Linked DNA regions of Homo sapiens. The protein of the gene in region 1 interacts with the protein of each later gene in a pairwise test. Each region holds a gene or a part of one and is shown in the gene's direction. Other genes may lie near its edges.

Region 1 (3,750 bases):
TGCACTCCAGCCTGAGCAACAGGAGCGAAACTCCGTCTCAAAAAAAAAAAAAAAGAAAACAGAAGTAGACAATTTAAAGTTAAGCGTCTTTAAGTACATTTTGCCCATACCAAAGTTCTTATTTTTAATTTTATTGATACATAATAATCATAATTTCATGCTTTATCACGCAGGCACAATAATAATTGTACATATTTATGGAGTATATGTGATATTTTGATACATGCATACAATGTATAATAATCAGTAATTAGGATAGCCATCACCTCATTTATCATTTCTTTCTTTTGGGAACATTCAAATCTTCTAGCTGTTTTGAAATATACAATAAATTATTGTTAACTGTAGTCACTCTACTGTGCTATTGAATGCTAGAACTCATTCCTTCTAACTGTATTTCATACCAGAATTCTTTATTTGTGGTATATCTCTCTTTTTGTTTCTGTTTTGCTATTCTAGAAAGGCAGGTAGGGCTAGATCATATTCTCCAGGCTCATGTCATTTAGATTTCATAGAAACTCCAACTATAAACCTTTCCAGATTTCTCTGATTAAGGTGACTAAGGCTCTTTCCCTAATATTTTTAACTGAGATATAAATAATAAAGTGAAATGCCTACTTTTTTACATCTGCAAAAATATTTTATTTTCTTGTATAATCTTTATTTTATTATACACTTTATCTTGGTTTTACTTTTGCTTTGCAGAGGCATGAGATTCTAGTTTTGACACTAATGTTGATCCTAATATTTGTGAACTTGATCTCTAGCTTTCAGGATGCCAACCCGCCCCTGAAGGTTATTCCCCAACACTTCAATGGCAACAGCAACAAGTGGCACAGTTTTCAACTGTTCGACAGGTAAGTGTCATATTTAATCTAATTAAGCCCCTGTTGGATTTATTTCTGTTCTTAGACTGTAGCTGGAAAAATAAAATTTATGATCCTAAAGTATACAGAATATTCATGAATTAATTACCAAATTATTTTTATAATCATTAGACATGATACAGTTTGAAATATTTTCTAAGTTTTGTTTATTTTTATTTGTTTGTTTATTTATTTCAATAGTTTTGGGGAACAGGTGGTTTTTGGTTACATGGATAAGTTCTTTAGTGGTGATTTCTGAGATTTTGGTGCACTTGTCACCCAAGTAGTGTACTCTGTACCCAATACATGGTCTTTTACATCTCACCCCCTCCCACCTTTCCCATTTTTCAAGTTTTAGATGGTTACAATTTTGTGCAGAAACTGATTTCAGTTATCCATTTTTTGAAGAGTACCATCTAATGTCTAAGTTTTCTTCCTTTAGAATGTGAACAAACATAGAAGTCACTGGAAATCACAACAGTTGGATAGTAATGTGACAATGGTATGTAAGTTTCTCAGTTTTAAGATGTACAATGTATACCTGATTGAAAGAGTCTATATTTACTTCCAGTCGTTAAAGATTCACTTGCCTAGTCAGTGTTACTTTCATTCTCTTCAATATACCATTAATAGTAACAATTCATTACATTAGTAGCCTGGAAAGTATAGATTTTCATGACAAATTTTTTTTTTTTTTTTTTTTGAGACAGGGTCTTGCTCTGTCTCCCAGGCTAGAGTGCAGTCATGGCTCACTGCAGCCTTGACCTCCTGGGCTCAAGTGATCCTCCCACCACCGCCTTCCAAGTAGCTCGAACTTAAGGCATATACCACCATGCCCAGCTAATTGTTAAAATTTTTTGTAGAGACAAGGTCTCCCTGTGTTACCCAGGCTGGTCTCTTACTCCTGGGCTCAAGTGATCCTCCTGCCCTAGCCTCCCCGAGTGCTGGATTACAGGCATGAGCTACTGTACCCAGCCTTTCATGTCAATTTTAATTCACAATATCTTGGGGGACTTTGGATAGGTGACTGTGAAACTTCCACAAGTTTTTAAGGATTCTTCTAGACATTTACTTTCTAGGAAATAAATACATTTTCAATATTTACAAAAAAAATTGAATAAAGCCTTAATGGATTTTCCTGATGAGGTGATGGTGCCATGCAGTAAACTCACATGTTTACAGAACTTGTGAATGGATTCTGCTTCTGCTTAATGTGATGAGTCTGTGTCACAATTCCAGTGACATATAAGTGAAACCTGTCATGTATATTGTCATGCATATGTCCTATATTTTATCAGTTTAGATATAACTTTAAGCCCTTTAGTAGATATATCAGGACTACCAAATGAAAAAAGGAGTTGGAAAGATGATACATTGTCTCAGGACAGTAGTTTTTAACCTTTTAGGGGACTTCATATTCTTTCGTAGAATCTAATGAAAGCTATTTATCTTCAGAGGGAAAAAAAATGCACCTATGCACAACATTTTAGTTTCAGGTAGTTCATAGATTTTAGATTTTAGAAGCTTCCTTTAGGCAGTGCTTCCTGATATCTTTTACATGGTGACACATTAGAATAAATGACTGCTTGCATATTCTTCCTGAAACCAGCCGAAAGCTGAGAGATTCAGTATATGGCATCTCTGTATGCTTCTGCATACCATTTGGAAGCTCTGCTCCAGGAAAAGCGTGAAGGGAAGTAACTTATCACTTGCCAATGGTCATTTAACTTGTAAAAGGTATAGCTAGTCCTTCTATCAAAGAAGCATGCGCACATAAACACACAAAAGGTATGCTTAAGGTTCAAACCCAAGTTGGTCTGTCTCTAAAGCCTGTGTGCCTTTGACTATGCAATGGTGCCTTCCTAGTACCAAGGATGTATGTATGTAGTAGGGACAGGGCTAGGTAGGTAAATATATTTTTTTTCTTACTTAGCGGAAGGCCTTTTGGGTGCATGCCCACTAACTAAAAAAGAAGCCACATCAGTAACATTATGACTTGATAAAATTTTGTCAAAAATGGAAATGACCTAACATAATTGATTCAATAAACTATGGTCCATCAGAACAGTGGAATATTATGTAGCAATTTTAAGTGTTTGTCATGGCAAATGCAAACATCATATAAGTAATAAAATGAAAATGTTTTAAAGTACACTCTGAGCCAGGCACAGTGGCTCATGCCTATAATCCCAGCACTTTGGGAGGCTGAGGTGGGCAGATCACCTGAGCTCAGGAGTTCGAGACCAGCCTGGGCAACATGGCAAAACCCTGTCTCTATTTAAATTATTTAAAAAATAAAGTACACTGTGATGGCAACTGTGTGAAAACATAAACATTTGTTTATTAATTGATCCAATAATTTAAGCATGTGCTATATTTAATAATCAGGATATTCAGTACTAACTGAAACAGAAACAGCTTCTGACCTAATAGAGTGTTAGGAAAAGGTAGATAACCTTATTCCAAGACAATAGGGTTTAACTTTGTAGTGGTCTCATGTTCATCGTGAGGTTTTATTTTATTTTATTTTATTTTATTTATTTTTTTGAGATGGAGTTTTGCTCTTGTTGCCCAGTCTGGAGTGCAGTGGCACAATCTTGGCTCACTGCAACCTCTGTCTCTTGGATTCAAGCAATTCTCCTGCCTCAGCCTCCCAAGTAGCTGGGATTACAGGTGCCTGCCACCACACCCAGCTAATTTTTGTATTTTTAGTAGAGACGGGGTTTCACCATATTTCCAGGCTAGTCTCGAACTCCTGACCTCAGGTGATTCATCCTAAGGATTTAATGAAAGCTACTTATCCCTAGGGGGAAAATGCACCTATGCAAAGTAATATACAAGGTGATATGTACAAACAAAGGTTATTTTGTTAAGGAGGTTATAT
Region 2 (3,750 bases), on another chromosome or scaffold:
TCTGCTTTTTTTTTTCTTTTTTTTTTTCTTTTTTTTTTTTTTTTTTAATGAGACAGGTTTCTCTGTGTTGCCCAGGCTGGTCTTGAACTCCTGGGCTCAAGCAATTCTCCCACCTCAGCCTTCCCAGTAGCTGAGATTATAGGTCTCTGCTTTTCAGGAGATAGTGGGTGGGAGCCGGAGAGTCTGGAGGCAGGAGGCCAGAGAGGAGGCAGGCAAAACAGAACAGGGCAAAGTGATGAGGTCTCACCTTAAGCAGGGGCAGTAGGAAGGGAAATAAAGTGCGCCCCTTCCTGACCTTCATCCTAGAGTTTTCCTTTTGATTTCTTTGCCTCAAGAAAATGGGCCAGGCGCACAACTAAAGTTGGCAGTTTGTTGTGACAGGCCCTTGTTCTGCTTCCAGAAGATAGATCCCTCTGTGTCTTGAAGATATAGCCTGGCTCTGTGTGTCGAGGTGGGGGACAGGAGGGCTGCCATGTCATGGAAAAAGAAAGGCCTGATATGTACTAGCCATACGTCCCGTGATTGAAAAGGCATATGAACAATAAAAGCCTCAATTTCCTCATCTCTAAAAGGGGAGATCATGTCCCTTGCTCTGTGTAACTCAATTTTTTGTTCATTCCTTTGTTTATTCATTCAATAGTTATTTATGGAGCACACACAATGTGCCAGATTCTGTGCTAGGTGCTGGAGATACGGTGGTAAACAATATAGAACCCACCCCTGCCTTCAAGGAGCTTGCTGTGAGGATAAATGAAATGATTATGAAATCACTCTGTTAACTATACTGCATGGGTCTCATTGTTTTTCTTTTTTTTTTTTAGAGACGGGGGATCTTGCTATGTTGCCCAGGCTGGTCTCGAACTCTTGGGCTCAAGCAATCTGCCGCCTCAGCCTCCTAAAATGCTGGGATTACAGGAATGAGCCACCATGTCCAGCCCATTTCTTTCTCTCTCTCTCTCTCTCTTTTTTTTTTTTTTAGAGACAGGGTCTCACTCTATCACCCAACCTGGAGTATAGTGACACAGTCATGGCACTGCAGCCTTGACCTCCCGGACTCAAGTGATCCTCTCGCCTCAGCCGCCCAAGTACAAGTGCTCATTACCATGCCTGGCTAATTTTTTTCTTTTAATTTATTTTTTGTGGAGATGGGGTCTCACTGTGTTGCCCAGTCTGGTCTTGAGCTCCTGGCCTCAAGTGATTCTCTGGCCTCAGCTTCCCAAAGTGTTAGGATTATAGACAAGCGTGAACCACCACACCCAGCCCTATTTTTCTATTTCTCATCTCCCAATAAGATTGCAACCTCAACTAGGGCTACCTACGTAGGCCTAATCAGAAAACCTGAGTTTAGTCTTACTTCTTTGTTTCCTTCTCTCCATAGCCTCATTGAGCAAGGCACTTCCCCTCTCTAGATGATTCGTTGTTCATATTCAGCCCAAGGTCTATGATTGCTGTTTTTGTTTTTAGAGACGGAGTTTTGCTCTTGTCTCCCAGGCTGGAATGCAGTGGCACAATCTCGGCTCACTGCAACCTCTGCCTCCCGGGTTAAAGCAATTCTCCTGCCTCAGCCTCCCAAGTAGATTACAGGCATGCGCCACCACACCCAGCTAATTTTTGTATTTTTAGTAGAGACCATGGGCAGGCTGGTCTCGAACTCCTGATCTCAGGTGATCCGCCCGCCTCGGCCTACCCAAAGTGCTGGGATTACAGGCGTGAGCCACAGCGCCCAGCCGATTGGTTTCAACTATTAGAAGAAGGGATAAACTGGCCCGGAGCGGTGGCTCAAGCCTGTAATCCCAGCACTTTGGGGGCGGGCGGATCACCTGAGGTAAGGAGTTCAAGACCAGCCTAGCCAACATGGTTGAAACACCGTCTCTAGTAAAAATACAAAAATTAGCCAGGCGTGGTGGCAGGCGCCTGTAATCCCAGCTACTCGGGGGGCCGAGGCAGGAGAATCGCTTGAACTCGGGAGGCAGAGTGTGCAGTGAGCCGAGATCGCGCCATCGCACTCCAGCCTGGGGGGACAAGAGCGAGACTGCGTCTCAAAAAAAAAAAAAAAAAAAAAAAAAAAAAAAGGAGGGATAAGCTTCTGGGAGAAAAAGTTCCGGGTAAAGAAATCTCACTATAAAAAAGAAATAGTAGCAGAAACAGCTGGGAACTCCTAGACACACTTAACTTTCTTAGGTATCCCTTCCAGTCTCCTCCCAACCACTCCTTTCCTATTTCATTTCCACTCCCCACCTTTAGTAGCTGCGGTCTCTTTAAGTGCGCACTTTCGGTGTAATGATAGGCGATTGGGCCAATAAAGCGTTTCGTCCTGGAGTTAACTGGTTTGTCCCTTTCGGGCTGCCGTCCTACAGATCCGCCATATTGTCTACTGAAAGCTGCCGCTGAAGCTGCCGCCGTTGCCTCCGCCGCCAAGAGTGAGCGAGCGGACCCGCGATGGGTGAGTGAGGAAACCACGCAGTAGGGTTCTTGGGCTCAGGGAGTGTCGGGGCCTGGGATTTGGCGAGAGCCTGTCTCCGGTCTGCGGAAGATGTCTGCATCCCCTCTAGCTAGGTCTGAGGGGAAAAGTCAGGCCGGGAGTGCCCCTCTTGCCAGTTTTGGGCCGAGCTAGGGCCCGTGCTGGAAGCAGTCCTTTGGTGCTGGTTTCGGGGACACCTTGGCACGCCTGGAGCCCCCCACATGGTGGCCTCGGGCAGGAGCCCACGTGTTCCTGGGAGGTAGAAAGGGGCCTACTCTCTGTCCTGCGCCCAGACTGGGGCTGGGGGACGGGCTCCCGGCGGCAGGCCTGGGCGGCGCTAAGGTAGCTTTCTCCTGGGTTGTGTTTGGCCAACGCGTGTCTTGACTAGATTCAGTGGCTCCCCTGAACTCAGGGAAGTCCTACCTACGTAGCGAGGTGGAGTCCTCTAGTGAGGGGACGTCAGGCGAGCCAGCACTAGGCCGGTAAGCATGGGCAGCCAGGCCGAGGGCAGCTTGCGCCGCTGAAGGCCGGGAGAACGGAATCAAGGCGGAAATAGTGTGGTTCGGTTGGGCTCAGAGTGGCATCGCTTGTGATGGTAGAACACCAAAGGCCAAGTCCTCTTGGCCATCTTTAGGTTGAGGACTTTAGGTTTCTGGGCTGGCCCTGGTAAGGAGAAAAGGAGCGACCTGTTGATCTTTCTGAGGGGACTCCGGCTGGCAAGGCCTCTGTTCAGAGAGAATACCATGGCGAAGTCTTTGGATTTAGAGACAGAACCAACAGTGGTAATTCCTCTAAAGCAGTAAAAATTGTGAAATTTGCTAAGCTCTTTCTACGTACGGGCATTGTTCTGATTGCTTTACATGTCTTGTTTTACTTAATTTGTACAACCTAAGGAAATAGATGCTACCATTGCCATTTTACAGATGTGGAAGCTGAGCTTTAGAGAGGTAAAGTAACTTACCCAAGGTCATGCAGTGGCTAAGCCAGGGTGAACACTCCCAAGCCTAGTTTGTAACTGCTGTTTGTTGTTGTTGTTGATAGAGTCTTGCTCTGTCGCCCAGGCTGGAGTGCAGTGACGCGATCTCGGCTCACTGCAACCTCCTGCCTCCCGGGTTCAAGCGATTCTCCTGCCTCAGCCTCCCGAGTAGCTGGGATTACAGGCACCCACCACCACGCCCGGCTGATTTTTGTGTGTTTTTGGTAGAGACAGGGTTTCGTCATGTTGGCCAGGCTGGTCTCGAACCCCTGACCTCAAGTGATTCGCCTGCCTCGGCCTCCCAAAGTGCTGG
Region 3 (3,750 bases), on another chromosome or scaffold:
ACAGGGACACCCTCGGCTGAACGGCCTGCATGCTTCAGGGTCAGACTTTGGTGGAGGGAGGTTCCCATCCGCAGGGGCCCTGGGCTTCCCTAAGGGTCCCCTCAGGAGCACCAGCAGCAGATGAGGCAGGGCCCAGTGAGCTGACTCTCACTCATCCCCCTGTGATTCCAGACAAACTCACTGTTCAGCATGGAAATCTTTATTGCCGCAATGCTTGCATCCTCCTTTGGAATTTAACTGAAGGGGAGGAAGGAGGCAAGAAAGATCAGCTTTGTAAGAGCCCAAAGAAGGGGGAAAGTGACGCAAGGCTCATGACCTACTCCAGGAATCTGGAATTCAGCTCAGAAAAGGCAAACCCACAGAGAGCCCCCCACCCAACCCTGCCAATCCTGAGTCTATAATTGGATCCCCTCTCCAAAATTGTGATATTTTGTTCATTATCAATTTTTTGCATTACTTTTGATTTTTACAAATATTGCCTTAAAATATTCTTTTTTTTTTTTTTTTGAGATGGAGTCTCACTCTAACGCCCATGCTGGAGTGCAGTGGCATAGTTTCAATTCACTGCAACCTCTGCCCCTTGGGTTCAAGCAATTCTCCTGTCTCAGCCTCCTGAGTAGCTGGGATTATAGGCGCACGCCCCCTCTCCCGGCTAATTTTTGTATTTTTAGTAGAGTCGGGGTTTTACCATGTTGGTCAGGATGGTCTCAAACTCCTGACCTCGTGATCAGCCCACCTCGGCCTCCCAAAGTGCTGGCATGCGCCACCGTGCCCGGCCTTCCTTAAAATATTATTGATCTTGACTACAGAGGGGTTGGGCATGCCCTTGCATTTGGGCCTCCCCAAGTCCAGGCTGAGTGGTCCCTGGAAGGTTAACCAGCATTGATCAGAAACGCGTTTTCCATAGTTCTTCCCAGCCAGACAGACAGGCTGCAGTGTCAGCACGGCAACTTTTGGCTGCATGACTTTGGAAAAGTTCATAACTTCTTCCAGCCTTTGTTTCCCTGGCTGTAAAATGGGCATATAGCAGTAGCCCCTTCCATAGAGAGTCTCTCTGTGAAGGTTAGATGCAGTGATCCATGAGATTAACTCTGTGCCTGGCACATAGTAAGAGTTCAATAAATAGCAGCTGTAAATGGTATTAGGCCCATATTTCCTGAACCAGCCTTCAGAATATAAGGTCTGACAAATATTTCTATATTTATGGGGATGGTGGAATTGAATATTTCAATTATGCTGTCTCAGAAATTCCTGAGTCTAGAGAACTTCTGGCAATCATTTTGTTCCAGTTGTCATCAGGAGCATGGAGCTCAGAGACCTGCCGGAGAGGTTATGGGGTGAGTTGGGCCTGGCAAATGCACCCCATATTGAGTGGCTGAGAAGCCTCCAGAAATGGAAAGTTTATTGTAAGAGGAATGTTCTCTGCGCTTCCTTCCTCCTTTGCCATCTCCTTCAACTGCTCCCCGCTCACTCCCAGTAGAATCTGGAGCTGATCTACTCAAAGAAATTATCAAGAAAGCAAGGGTTGGCCGGGCGCGGTGGCTCATGCCTATAATCCCAGCACTTTGGGAGGCTGAGCCAGGCGGATCACCTGAGGCCAGGAGTTCAAGACTGACCTGGCCAACATGGTGAAACCCTATCTCTACTAAAAATACAAAAAAAAAAAAAAAAAATTAGCCAGGTGTGGTGGCAGGCACCTGTAAATCCCAGCTACTTGGGAAGCTGAGGCAGGAGAATAGCTTGAACTTGGGAGGTGGAGATTGCAGTGAGCAGAGATCACGCCACTGCACTTCATTCAGCCTGGGTGACAGAGCGGGACTACATCAAAAAAAAAAAAAAAAAAGAAAGAAAGAAAGAAAGAGAGAGAGAAAGGAAGAAAGGAAGGAAGGAAGGAGACAGAGAGAAAAAGAGAGAAAGAAAAAGAAAGAAAGAAAAGAAAGAAAGAAGGAAGGAAGGAAAGAAAGAAAGAAAGAAAGAAAGAAAGAAAGAAAGAAAGAAAGAGAAAGAAAGAAAGAAAAAGAAAGAAAGAAAATGAACAAACGGGGAGAAAGAAAGAAAGCAGGGTTCCTGGCCTTTGGCACTTCCCCACCCTGGAGACCAGCATGGTGTTATCTTACCCAAACCACTCCCAGCCCCAGGCCAATGGGGATTAAAGACCCCTGCTGGCAGGGACAGCTGTGAGGCCACTGTTGTTTTCCCCCAAACTGTCCTTGCTACTGTGGTTGTCTTTAATTTATGGGAATGAAGGATTTTGCGGTGGTTTCCTCATGGGGTTCAAGGGAAGGTTGCGTGTGATTAGAGTGGCTACAGGTGAATCCGATCGCCCGCCTGGGAAAGCCATGGTGCTAGAACTCAGCACTGCTCCCTCCTGCTCTCACGTCCTCACTCTGCTGAGACATGCCTTTAATCAGACGTGATTTGTCTCATCCTTCTTCAGCTCCAACACGTGTGTTCCCAGAGCTGTCCTGCCCCAATTTCTCTTTGCAAGACCTGCTCTATGCCTGCCTCCGCCCAACCACAAATTTGCCTAAGGTATAAAACTCCACAAATAGGCCTCTCTCCTCTTTTCCCTCCTGATGCCCCTTTACAGGCCACCTCCCCGCCCCAGGTCCCCTCCACTACCCCTGCCACGAAGCCACACCCAGGGACTGACCTTGCAAACACATCCTGCATTTTCTTCCCCCTCTCTGACTGTGCTCTGGTGGTTTCTCCTTGCCTAGAGCACTCTCCCCTTCCCCGTACTTCTGCCTGTTGAAGTCCTACTTAAAAACCACCCAGCTCAAAAACAACCCCTTCCAAGAATATTTTTGTTCTTCTTTTTCAAAAATTTATAGCTACATTTGCATATAACATAGTATCAAAGAAAGCTACAGTTAAGAAATGTCGAAGTCTAGTATCTGCTAGAATCTGTGTTGATTTTCTCACTTTAGCTTGCAGTTGTTTCATAAAGGAACTCTTCTGAGGTTTCTTACCTGGGACATCTTATATTTGAAATCTCCTTTTTTAAAAATTGGGGTCAAATACACATAACATAAAAGTTACCGTCTTAACAGTTTTTAAGTGATACAGTACAGTAGTTGTGCAATCGATTTCTAGAACTTTTAATCTTGCAAAACCGAAACTCTATCTCCATTAAACAACGACCTTTTTTCCCTTCCCCCACCCCCTAGCAATCACCATTCTTTCTCTTGCTAAACATTTGACTATTTTAGATACCTTACATAAGTGAAATCATGCAATGTTTGTCATTTTTGTGACTGGCTTATGTCACTTGGCATAATGTCCTCAAGTTTCAACCAGGTTGTAGCAAGTGACAGGATTTTCTTCTTTTTTTTTTTTTTTTTTTTTTTTTTAGAAAGACAGGGTCTTGCTATGCTGCCGAGGCAGGTGTTGAACTCAGGGCTTCTAGCAGTCCTCCCACCTTGGCCTCCCAAAGTGCTGGAATTATAGGTGTGAGCCACCATGCCTGGCCTCCTTCTTTCTGAAGACAATAACATTCCATTGTATGGATATACCAAATTTCTTTCTTCTTTTTTTTTTTTTTGAGACGGAGTCTCACTCTGTTGCCAGGCTGGAGTGCAGTGGCGCGATCTCGGCTCACTGCAACCTCCGCCTCCCGTATTCAAGTGATTCTCCTGCCTCAGCCTCCCAAGTAGCTGGGACTACAGGCACACGCCACCACGCCCAGCTAATTTTTGTATTTTTAATAGAGACGGGGTTTCACCATGTTGGCCAGGATAGTCTCAATTT

What was found.
Region 2: the proteins of GEMIN2 (region 1) and KPNA6 interact in binary tests that used the Homo sapiens proteins (3 or more experiments, as listed by UniProt).
Region 3: the proteins of GEMIN2 (region 1) and MEOX1 interact in binary tests that used the Homo sapiens proteins (3 or more experiments, as listed by UniProt).

The regions. Positions count from the first base shown.
Region 1 is NC_000014.9:39,117,232-39,120,981, forward strand, and holds part of GEMIN2 (gem-associated protein 2), read left to right. Parts: intron 1-767; coding exon 768-857; intron 858-1,308; coding exon 1,309-1,368; intron 1,369-3,750. UniProt on the Homo sapiens protein: The SMN complex catalyzes the assembly of small nuclear ribonucleoproteins (snRNPs), the building blocks of the spliceosome, and thereby plays an important role in the splicing of cellular pre-mRNAs.
Region 2 is NC_000001.11:32,105,692-32,109,441, forward strand, and holds the start of KPNA6 (importin subunit alpha-7), read left to right. Parts: upstream 1-2,364; 5' UTR 2,365-2,439; coding exon 2,440-2,443; intron 2,444-3,750. UniProt on the Homo sapiens protein: Functions in nuclear protein import as an adapter protein for nuclear receptor KPNB1. Binds specifically and directly to substrates containing either a simple or bipartite NLS motif.
Region 3 is NC_000017.11:43,655,264-43,659,013, reverse strand, and holds part of MEOX1 (homeobox protein MOX-1), read left to right. Parts: intron 1-3,750. UniProt on the Homo sapiens protein: Mesodermal transcription factor that plays a key role in somitogenesis and is specifically required for sclerotome development. Required for maintenance of the sclerotome polarity and formation of the cranio-cervical joints.